2 separate regions of the Homo sapiens genome follow, and region 1 is linked to region 2. The links come from fine-mapping of genetic effects on gene expression. A gene starts in region 2. The other region holds a variant in brackets. All regions are shown on one strand. Distances are between the middles of the regions.

What was found. PIP is the estimated chance that this variant, and not a neighbour inherited with it, causes the effect.
Region 1: its variant is the best candidate, but not a certain one, in a credible set for the expression of C8orf82 in whole blood (INTERVAL, PIP 0.77).

Annotation. Positions count from the first base shown.
Region 1 is chr8:144,454,870-144,460,025 of GRCh38, forward strand. The region is part of intron 2 of TMEM276-ZFTRAF1 (TMEM276-ZFTRAF1 readthrough); the gene reads right to left. The region is part of intron 1 of ZFTRAF1 (zinc finger TRAF-type containing 1); the gene reads right to left. Among named protein-coding and RNA genes, the nearest start is that of MIR10400, 5.1 kb to the right of the region's middle. The variant ACATCATGGGGGGATGG/A (reference allele first, on the strand shown) is at 2,157.
Region 2 is chr8:144,527,076-144,532,231 of GRCh38, forward strand. It overlaps C8orf82 (chromosome 8 open reading frame 82), which reads right to left and starts at 2,036. Exons shown (of 3, transcript NM_001001795.2): 1 at 1,686-2,036; 2 at 949-997; 3 at 1-712. The coding sequence starts at 1,841. The coding sequence ends at 267. It overlaps ARHGAP39 (Rho GTPase activating protein 39), which reads right to left. Exons shown (of 12, transcript NM_025251.3): 11 at 3,627-3,796; 12 at 2,104-3,541. The coding sequence ends at 3,347. RefSeq lists silencers at 1-142, 1,270-1,564, 1,522-1,571, 1,582-2,171, 2,903-3,002 and an enhancer at 685-1,541.

The sequences.
Region 1 (5,156 bases), 72 kb before region 2:
ACTCAGCACCTGTGGACTAGGCCTAAGGCCTGCTGAGTCAAAGGACCTACATGTGGAGAACCGACAGTGAGGACAAAGCCCTCTTTCATGGAATCCACATCCACATGAACACCACCCGTTACCTGCATTCAATCCTCAAGTTCTCAGTTTGGTTAAAAATTAAAATTACAGGCGGTGGCTCATGCCTGTAATCCCAGCACTTTGGAAGGCCGAGGCAGGCAGGTCACCTGAGGTTAGGAGTTCATGACCAGCCTGGCCAACATGGTGAAACCCCATCTCTACTAAAAATACAAAAATTAGCCATGCATGGTGGCGAGCGCCTGTAATCTCAGCTTCTCAGGAGGCTGAGGCAGGAGAATGGCTCGAACCCGGGAGGCGGAGGTTGCAGTGAGCCGAAATGGTGCCACTACACTCCAGCCTGGGAGACAGAGTGAGACTCTATCTCATGAATACATAAATAAATAAAAATTAAAACATACACAGTTGCCTGAGGCAGGGAGTGAGACTGGCTCTGACTGGGTTGGGGACAAGCTGAGACCTGCCCCCAGGAGAAGGTGTGAAAATCCGCCAGCCAAGTCCAGGGGTCAGTGGTGGGTGGACTACAGGCAGGAGGGGGCACAGATGCTATTGAAGCAGCTGTCCTGTGGGAGGCACAGACCAAGGGCCCACACCACTGTCCTCTCACAGCCCCCCGCCCCCCGGAGGTATGCCACTCCACGTGGCCAGCTCTAAACACCTCCTGGTGAGACTGCCGGGGGCCTTGGACGAGGTTCTGGGTCCAGCTCTGCACGTACAGTGGCCTTAGCACAGGCAAAACAGCACTCTTCTTGGCTGTGGCCCGACCCCCAAGGGAGTTCCAGGCAGGGCTGGAGCATCTAATGCCACCCACCAAGGCCACCTGGCCTCTCTTCCTGGCTCTGCATAGCCCAGGAAGATTCGAGGTGGGGTCCTAGACCCTCCTAAGGGAGCACTGAGGCTGCCAAGCACATCACCACTTACCTCCCAGCACTGCGGGCCTCTCCCCCGAAAGCCACCCCAGCTCCTGGGCCGGCCCCTGGCCACAGGCCTCATTCCTTTGGGGCCTCCAGATCCCAGCATGGGCTCAGTCAATTCCATACCATGAGGAGGCAGCAGTGACCCTGCCCTCCTCTGGCTCTCTCTGGGCCTCCAAGAGGACCTGCAAGCTCCGAGGAGACACAGGGCCATTGCCCCTTCAGCCCCAATAGCTCCATTCAAGTCAGAACACAGGGAGTCCCTAGAGTGCCCTGGACTACACTGGCCCAGTAGCCAAGGGACACAGCCACACTCACCCCCAGACCCTCCCCACTGGTCAAAGGACATCTCTAGGTGCATGGCCCGGTCCCGACCAACACTCAGCCCAGGAGGTCTGTCCACAGCAGGACGGTCCCTGGTCACATGCTCCGGAGCCTCCCCACCATCTGGGTCCCCTCAGCCCCTGCGCAAGACTCTGGCTCTACACCAAGGCCAGGCCACAGGCAGCTGCATCCTTGGCCCTGGCAGCATCTGGCCAGATGCACTTGATTCTGACTTGTGCCCAACACCCAACAGAAGCTGGGCCCTGGAGGGCGCCGCACAGTCCAGGGGATGGCGTGGGCCAAGGCCCCCAAGAGCCCGGGCACCTTCCAGAGCAGCTGCTGTGGCACCCAGGCCAGGCCACCTCTCCCCACCAGCCAGGAAGACCCCAAGGGAGGGGAGAGGAGGGGATCCACAACCCCCCACGACCAAGAATGACGCCATGGGGGATGACATCATGGGCGAGACATCACAGAGGATGATGTCAGAGGGGTGACATCGTGGGAAATTGACATCACATGGGGAATGACATCATGGGGGAGACATCACGGGAATGATATCACGGGATGATGTCACATGAATGACATCACAGGGGGGACATCATGGGAGACTGGCATCACATGGGGGGATGACATCACCGGGGGATGACATCACAGGGGCATGACATTGCAGGGGAATTGCATCATGGGGGGTGACATCACGGAATGACATCACAGAGATGACATCACACTGGCATCATGAGGGAATGACATCACAGGGGATGACATTACGGGGATGACATCAAAGGGAGTATTGACATTACAGGGGATGACATTGTGGGAAATTGACATCATGGGGGACTG[ACATCATGGGGGGATGG/A]CATCATGGGGGGAATGACACCATGGGGATGACATTAAAAGAGGTATTGACATCACAGAGGTGATACCACAGGGGATGACATCATGTGGTGACAGCACGGGAATGACGTCACATGTATGACATCACAGGGGAATGATGTCATGGGGGAATGACATCACGGGGGAATGACATCACAGGGCCTCCTGGGCCCTCCTAGGGCAGATGTGGGCTTGAAGCCACAGTGCTGGGCTCAGACGCCAGCCCACAGATCCCCAGTAATATGACCTTGGGCTCCCCTCTTGGGGCCTCAGTTTCCTCATGTGCACAGGTGATGAGTATAGGACCAGCTTCATTCTGTGCTGATGAGGTGGGATGGGACAGGGTGGCACTGCCCCACACCCAACAGGCAGACAGGAAATATCACCACCTTGGGCAGCCATGGCAGAGCCCCTGGGGCTGCCAACCCCAGGAGCCAGACCCCAGGCCCCTCTGCAGATGCTGATACACACAGGTGGCCCAGAAATGGCCATTTGCACCTGCATCCTCAGGACAGCACCCAGCCCTCCCCCCTGCTGGCTACAGGCAGCTCACGTGACCCCCATGCAGACCCAGGGTCTCCACCTGAGCTACTTCTTCCCTGGGGTTAAAGGGGAGCTAGATGGGCGGAACAGGCTCAAGGAGCCCTGACCCCATCCCCTGGCTGAGGGCCCCCACGATTTCCTGGTGGTCCCAAGGTCTCTATGGTCAGCTGACCTTGTAGGACCCCTTTCACACCTGGACTGCATGGTTCTCTCAGACCCTGGGGACCTCCTGTTTGCCACTGGAGGATGGCACAGTGCCCAGGCCCATGGGAGCAGTGCCCTCGCTCACCCAGGGGTCAGGGACCCACAGGCCCTTGACAGAGGTCGTCAGAGCCAAAATGCAGCCAAAGGGCTTCCCTGTGGCACAAACCCCAAAAGCGCTGCTCAGCCAGTTGGAGGTCCCCCTTCCTCTGCCATCTGCATGCAGGCAAGGCCTCACCAGGGCCAGTGGTGCTTCAGGGCACACCCCATGCACCCCGCGTGCTCGGCCCCTAACCTCCCGAATCAAACATGGGTCTGAGAGGGACTGGCACGTTGTCCAAGGCCGCACAGCTGTTAAGCATGAAGCCAGGACTCGAACCCTCCACCCAGGCTGGATTTGAAGTCCCTCACCTGCTACTGCTGTCAGACCTCAAACGGTGGCCAATCAATCCCCAGAGTCGGGCCCACATTCAGAACAAGGCTGCTTAGATCTAAAAGTAACTCAAATGATAACCACCACAGAAAACAAAAATTCCAACTAGCCAGAGATTCCAGAACATCTTCCTTGCTCCTGTGTTTTAGATACCTAAGCAGACGTATTTACAAAGATGTTTTCTGCCACTTTCCTCACCTCAAAGAACGAGTCAGCTGCAGTCCTGTACTGCTGCCCAGGAGACTGGGGAAGAGGGGCCCGAAGCTCCTTGGACATGTGGATGGTGACTCCACCCCCCCAGGACTGCACACTGTTGGCCTGGTTGGGGGTGTGGGGCTCGGGCAGAGAGGAGCCATCTCTGCTTCCTGGGCTGTTATCAATGGACTGTCAACATGTGGCATAGAGACATGGGCGCTACAGGCGGGAGGGCCACGGCACACACCAACCCACCCACAGAACAGAGTGGACACACCCTGGTCAGATGGGGCAGGAGGGGATCCTTGTAGCAAGGAGAGAACAAAGTCTCAAAGTGGGGGCGCTGCCTCTGCCGGGCCCAAGAGGTGGGCAGGGGCAGGGAGAGGACACCTCAGGCAGGAGAGCATGGGAATGGCAGGGCACTGTGCAGGGCCGAGTTAGAGGGAGCGGCTGGACCACATCTGTGAGAGGCCCCTGCCCGGCACTTACACCCGAGTGAGCCCGTTTTTGCCTTAAGAATGCCCCATGAGGGGTGGGAACAATGCGCAGTCCCTTCCTCCAGGTGCCAGCACCAAGGCCCAGGGCCTCATCTGACAGCAGCAGGAAGGGTCAGGGCCAGGTCTGTCTTACGCAGCATCACACTGGGCCTCGTCTGAAGGGCCAAAATGGAGGGAGAGAAGTCAGGGATGAGGCTGCGGCTGCAACGTCCCGGGCACCGCTGAGGCTGTCTCTTCCCAGAGGAGGTGCCCCATGGGCAGAGGTGCCAACAGGCCACACTGCCCTCGGGCCGCAGAGCAGGGAGCCGGCAGGAACGACCTGACCACCTGCGCGGCCTGGTCAGGCCAGAAGCTCCTGCACAGGTGTAACTGCTGCCCCACCAGCCCTCCTGCCACCCACCTGAGACTCCAGAAGGTGGCTGCACACCTTGTCAGGCCAGTCCCCCAGAACATATCTAACACCCACACAGAGAACATAAAAGCTGAGTCTTGCTGTACTGGCTGCAGCCCCAACCTGACGTGAGGCAGGACTCGGCGGTGGCGGAAACCTTTTGCATGAGGGCCTCAGTCTGACACCCAAGCAGGTTTCCCAGCCTGTGAGGCATCATCGTACGGGCACAGGCCCATGGGTCAGCTGGCCCTGCAGGCCCAAAGGCTCAGACCTGGGGCACCACCCGAGGCTTCCCTGCCAGCACTGGTGGCATCTGGTATCTGGATGACAAGCTCTCGAGTTACTGAGGACCCAGCCAATTCCAGAGGCCCATGGAGTTGTCCCCCACAGCCCCAGTGCCAGGGAGAACACACAAAGCTCAGCATGGCCACTCCCCTCTTCTCACCAGAGTCAGGGACTGTCTAAGTCAGCCCCCAGCTTGGCTGGTGCCCACCCTGAGCCATGTGTTCTGCTGGGGTCAGGAAAAGCGTTCTAGCAGGAACAGAGGGTGGAACCTGCTGCATTCCTGACACTGGCTGGCTCGAGACAGCCAATCAACGTGGTCACCAAGGAAAGCTAGTAGAATATGGTAGACTGAACCCAAGCTGGGGTGATGGCCAGCATGGGCCCAACCAGGGACACGCAGAAGGCAGCATGTGGGGGCCCAC
Region 2 (5,156 bases):
CGCCGCCAGTGCCTGACGTCTCGAGCGCAGGCCAATCCGGAGGGCGCCGGAGTCGGGTGCGCGGGGGGCGCGCGCCGTGGGGAGCGGGGTGTCCGGGAGGGCCGGGCCGCGGCAGCACCAAGGACAGCGCCGGGTGGGGGCGGGGCCGAGCGCGCAGGCGCACTAGGCTGCCGCGAGCGCGGGTGGCGCGGGCTTTCCGGGGCGTGGAGTCCCGGGGGAGCGGGGCGAGAGGCGCCCGCGGCCTCCCGCCTTTCCCTTGGCCCCGCTCAGGGCGACCGAGCCGCGAGCAGCAGCGGGGCCAGGTCCATGGTGAGGGCGAGGCGGCGGCCCTGCCAGCGCACGTGCGAGGGCAGCGCAGGCGCGCCGGGCCCGTACTCGAAGCAGGCGCTGAGCTCGAAGGCCAGGGCGGAGCGCACCAGGCCCACGCCGCCCGCACGCTCCGGCGCCGGGTGGTACAGGCGCCCGTTGGCGGCCAGGGGCAGCAGGCGCGCCGGCTCGAAGGGCACGGCCAGGGCCTCGCCACCGCCGCAGTAGGAGAGGCGCGGAGGCCCGTGGTCCGCGGTCAGCAGGTGCGTGAAGACCACCGGCCGGTCCTCGCAGCGCAGGAAGTTGCGCTCTCTGCCGCAGGGCGAGAGGAAGGGGAAAGCGGCCTCGTAGCGCCCGCTGCGGTTGGGTCTCAGGCGGGAGAAGAAGGTGACCAGGAACTGCGGGTCTGGGGGATGAAGGGTGCGTGTACTCAGCGCGCTGGGCTCCCAAGGCCTCCGGGCCCAGGACCATACCGAGGGCAGGCGCCGACGGTAAGAGGTTCGCCTGGCCTCACTCAGCGGGGCTCCTGAGCGCAGGACGCCCACTCCTTGGTGCGCTGGGCCCGTCGGCAGAGTCGGGGAGCCCATCAGGGGCTGCCCGGAAGGGAGAAAGAAGGGGCTGGAGAGGGAGGCACAGCATTACCTTTGAAGCAGGTGATGAAATTCTTCATTTTGGAATCATCCAGGAAAAGCTGCAGATAGAGGGCCAGGCCGTGATAAGTCCCAGCGTGCAGGTGGGGGCGGGGAAGCTCAGGAGGTCCTGAAGCTCGGGAGGTCCTGAACCGGCCCGAGCCCACTTTTCCTGCTTGTCTGTGCACACCGCATGCAGGGAGGCGCGTGAAAGGTAAACCTGGGGGCCCCGCCGACTTATCCGCGTCTATGCGCACCTCTGCTCCCTGGTCAGCCAATTCTTTCCCGCACCTTTTCCCTCTTTTCAAGTTTGTAATCAGTTGTACCACCTCCTCCGCGGAGACTACCTGGCCTGCTGCCTCCCGGACATGCAGCTGCCTTTTGACAGGGCTTCCAAAAAAAGGCAGGGCGGCCCGGGTGTCTCCCTGGCAGCGGCGAGAAGTCAGCGCCGGGGCTGGGGACTTGTAGGACAGAGTCCGAAGCTGCACAACGCAGCAGGGACGCGGCCCATGTAGGAGCCTCGGCCCGGACCGACCCAACTCCCCGTCTTTCCAGCGCGCTCTCCTCCAGCTCTGAGGAGTCGAGGTTGCCCACCGCGCAGGCCCCGCCCACCCACCCACCCCCTGGAACGTCCCTCCGGCCCCGCCCCTCGAGCAATGGTCCCGCCCACAGAGCCACGCCCCCCCCCCCGCCCCGCCCAGAGACCTCTCCCGGCCCCGCCTCTCGAGCAACGGCCCTGCCCCCGCCCACCTGGCCCTGGTGGTCCACGTAGTAGAAATACTCGCGGGTCCGCGGCTCCGGACTCTGGCCCTGCGTGTAGGAAACGCCCCCATCCCCGCTGCAGGCCCGGGCTCCCCGCGACCGCGCCAAGGCCAGGGTCCGGAGCGTCCCGCAAGGCGGCCACATTCTCCTCCCGCGCCGGAAGCGACCAGCAGGTCACGCCGGGGGCGGTGCTGCGCGAACTCGCGCCTGCCCGCAGTAGCCCCGCGCTTCGCGTTCCGGCGGCGCCCGCCTCCGCGACCCGGGCCCGGCGCTCTTCCCTCTCCCTCGGGCCTCGGGGGCTCGCCCGCCCTGGCCTTCCGAGAGGCGTGTGCCGGTGACGCCCCTTCCGGTCCGCCCCGCGTCTCTTCCCGCCCCCGGCCGCGCCCACAAGGAACGGGAGGACGCGCAGGGTCCATGTGCACTTTATTCACTCGTGTCGTCGCCTCTCGGGTCCATGCGTCGGGGCGAGCGTCTCAGCCGGGCGGGACCGCAAAGGCCCCGGGACCACCCGACTGAGGACGCCGCCCAGGCCTCGGCAGGGCTGGGGCTTTTGTTTTTAATAAATAAAAACGGAACTCTAAAAAATATATATATAAAAACTGGGGAGAAATTAAGTTTTACAACAATTGGAACTCAAAATTCCAAAATGGAAAATGTACAAACTCGGTCCCCCAGCAGCTCTGGCCCCGAGAACGGACAGTCCCGGGCCCGGCGCCTTCCCGCTCGCTCGTCTCCTGCAGGTCTGGGATGGGGATGGGGTAGAGCTTGGTTTTTGGTCAGAAGCCAAGAAAAAAGATCGGAGAAGAAAAGAAGGAATGACCTCAACTTGCTCTGCACGGAGGACGGGGACGGCTCAGAGATAAATAGCATTTAGGTTAAAACTATGTCATTAGCAAATTTAGTTCTTATATCTTTCCCTCTATTTATATCTCTATACACGGTGGGCTGCGATGCAGGATAGATTCTGGATTTACAGTTACACGAAGAAAAAAATACTCTCGCCCCTCCCCCACCCTGCCCCCAGAATGCCTGCCCAGCCCTGCTCCCTACCCCAGAGGACTTTGGTTTGGGGGCCCCCACCCCACCCACCGAGAGCCTGCCAGGCCCCGGGCCCACTGTCCTGGAGCCCCCAAACTCCTGAGCAGTCACCAGCTGGGGACCACGGGCCGAGGGAGGGAGAGGAGGCGGGGACAGGTCGGGAAGCTCTCTCGGGGCTGGGAAGAGCTGCAGGCCAGGACGAGGACAGGAGAAAGGGAAGGAGAGACCGGGGCGGCTGGGCAAGGCCCAGGCCAGGGCGCGCAGGAGCCACAGGGAGGCAGCCCGGCCCCAAGGAGGCAGCGTCGCTCGGCTCCAGGACACAGAAGGCACTTTCTCGGAGCTGACCCGCGGCCAGCGGAGGGCGAGGCGGTGCCCGCGGGAACTGGCCGTGAGGTGGGGGGCCAGAGGCGCCCTCCCCGCCGCTGCTGTGCCCTGGCTGCACCCTCAGACCAGGCAGAAGACGTGGGGAGCGCCGGGGCCAGGGGCCTGGGGGAGTGGAGGGGGCTCCAGGGCTGGGCCGGGCGATTCTGGCCCCTCTGCCGGGAGAGCGAGTGCGGAGTTCGGCCTGGCTGGGGGCGGCAGGACATCCCTCCTGTCCCCGGGCGCCCCCGCTACAGCACACCCTCCATGAAGCTGGTGTCCAGGTGCTGGATGAGCACCCGCAGGAAGGACATCTCCTTGCGGGTGTTCTCGAAGATGACGCGCGGGTCGTCGGACTGGCAGCGCAAGCAGTTGGGCGCCATCACCATGGCCAGGTTGCTGACATCCATCTTGGTGACCGCGACGTTGGCCGGCTGCACGAAGACCTGGTGGAGGAGCGAGGGTGGGCGCGGAGGGGCGGGGGCGGGGCGGGGAGGGGAAAGCAGCGGGGACCCCCGGGGAGGGAAGTACCTGCAGGAAGCGGATGAGGTAGCACAGCACCATGCGGTTGATGCGGGGCAGCGCGTGCACCACGGCCACCGCCGCCTCGGGGCTGTCGTAGTGCGCGATGCACTGCTCGTAGAACTCGTGCGGGATCAGGGGCTCCTCCAGCTCCCGGTACCACAGCTTCAGCAGGGACGCTGGGGACACAGCACGGGGCTCAGCGGCCCTGCTCGGCGGGCACCCCTGGGCCAAATGGGGTCCCGTGGCGGACATGCATGGAGGGGTGCTGTGGGGGACAGGCTGGGAGGGCCGGCTCATTCTGGACAGGGCCCATCTGGCCAGGCTGGGCCCTGACCCCAGAGGGCCTTTCGGCTCCTGGGGGCCTGAACTCGATCCTGGAGGCATGTGGGTCACGCCAGCAGAGTTGTGCAAAACAGGATTTTTCTCAGGAGTCGTCTGTGTAGCCACCGTGAGGGGGTGTCTGCAGAGCAGGCACAGCTGAAGGGCACAGGGCAGAGAGCAGCAGGTGGGGAGTGGGCTAGACATAGCAGGCACGGCAGAAGGGCACAGGGCAGCGAGCAGCAGGTGGGGAGTGGGCTAGACATAGCAGGCACGGCAGAAGGGCACAGGGCAGGGAGCAGCAGGTGGGGAGTAGGCTAGACATAGCAGGCACGGCAGAAGGGCACAGGGCAGCGAGCAGCAGGTGGGGAGTGGGCTAGACATAGCAGGCACGGCAGAAGGGCACAGGGCAGGGAGCAGCAGGTGGGGAGTGGGCTAGACATAGCAGGCACGGCAGAAGGGCACAGGGCAGCGAGCAGCAGGTGGGGAGTGGGCTAGACATAGCAGGCACGGCAGAAGGGCACAGGGCAGGGAGCAGCAGGTGGGGAGTGGGCTAGACATAGCAGGCACGGCAGAAGGGCACAGGGCAGGGAGCAGCAGGTGGGGAGTGGGCTAGACATAGCAGGCACGGCAGAAGGGCACAGGGCAGGGAGCAGCAGGTGGGGAGTAGGCTAGACATAGCAGGCACGGCAGAAGGGCACAGGGCAGGGAGCAGCAGGTGGGGAGTGGGCTAGACATAGCAGGCACGGCAGAAGGGCACAGGGCAGGGAGCAGCAGGTGGGGAGTGGGCTAGACATAGCAGGCACGGCAGAAGGGCACAGGGCAGCGAGCAGCAGGTGGGGAGTGGGCTAGACATAGCAGGCACGGCAGAAGGGCACAGGGCAGGGAGCAGCAGGTGGGGAGTGGGCTAGACATAGCAGGCACGGCAGAAGGGCACAGGGCAGGGAGCAGCAGGTGGGGAGTAGGCTAGACATAGCAGGCACGGCAGAAGGGCACAGGGCAGGGAGCAGCAGGTGGGGAGTAGGCTAGACATAGCAGGCACGGCAGAAGGGCACAGGGCAGGGAGCAGCAGGTGGGGAGTGGGCTGCATTGCACAGGTAGGCCTCGGGGTGCCCAGCAGACACCTGGGGAAACTGTCCAATGGGCAGAAGGGAGGATGTGCTAGAAGTGACTGGGAAGCCATCACATCACTGGGCAGGATCAGGGTGGACCCCAGAG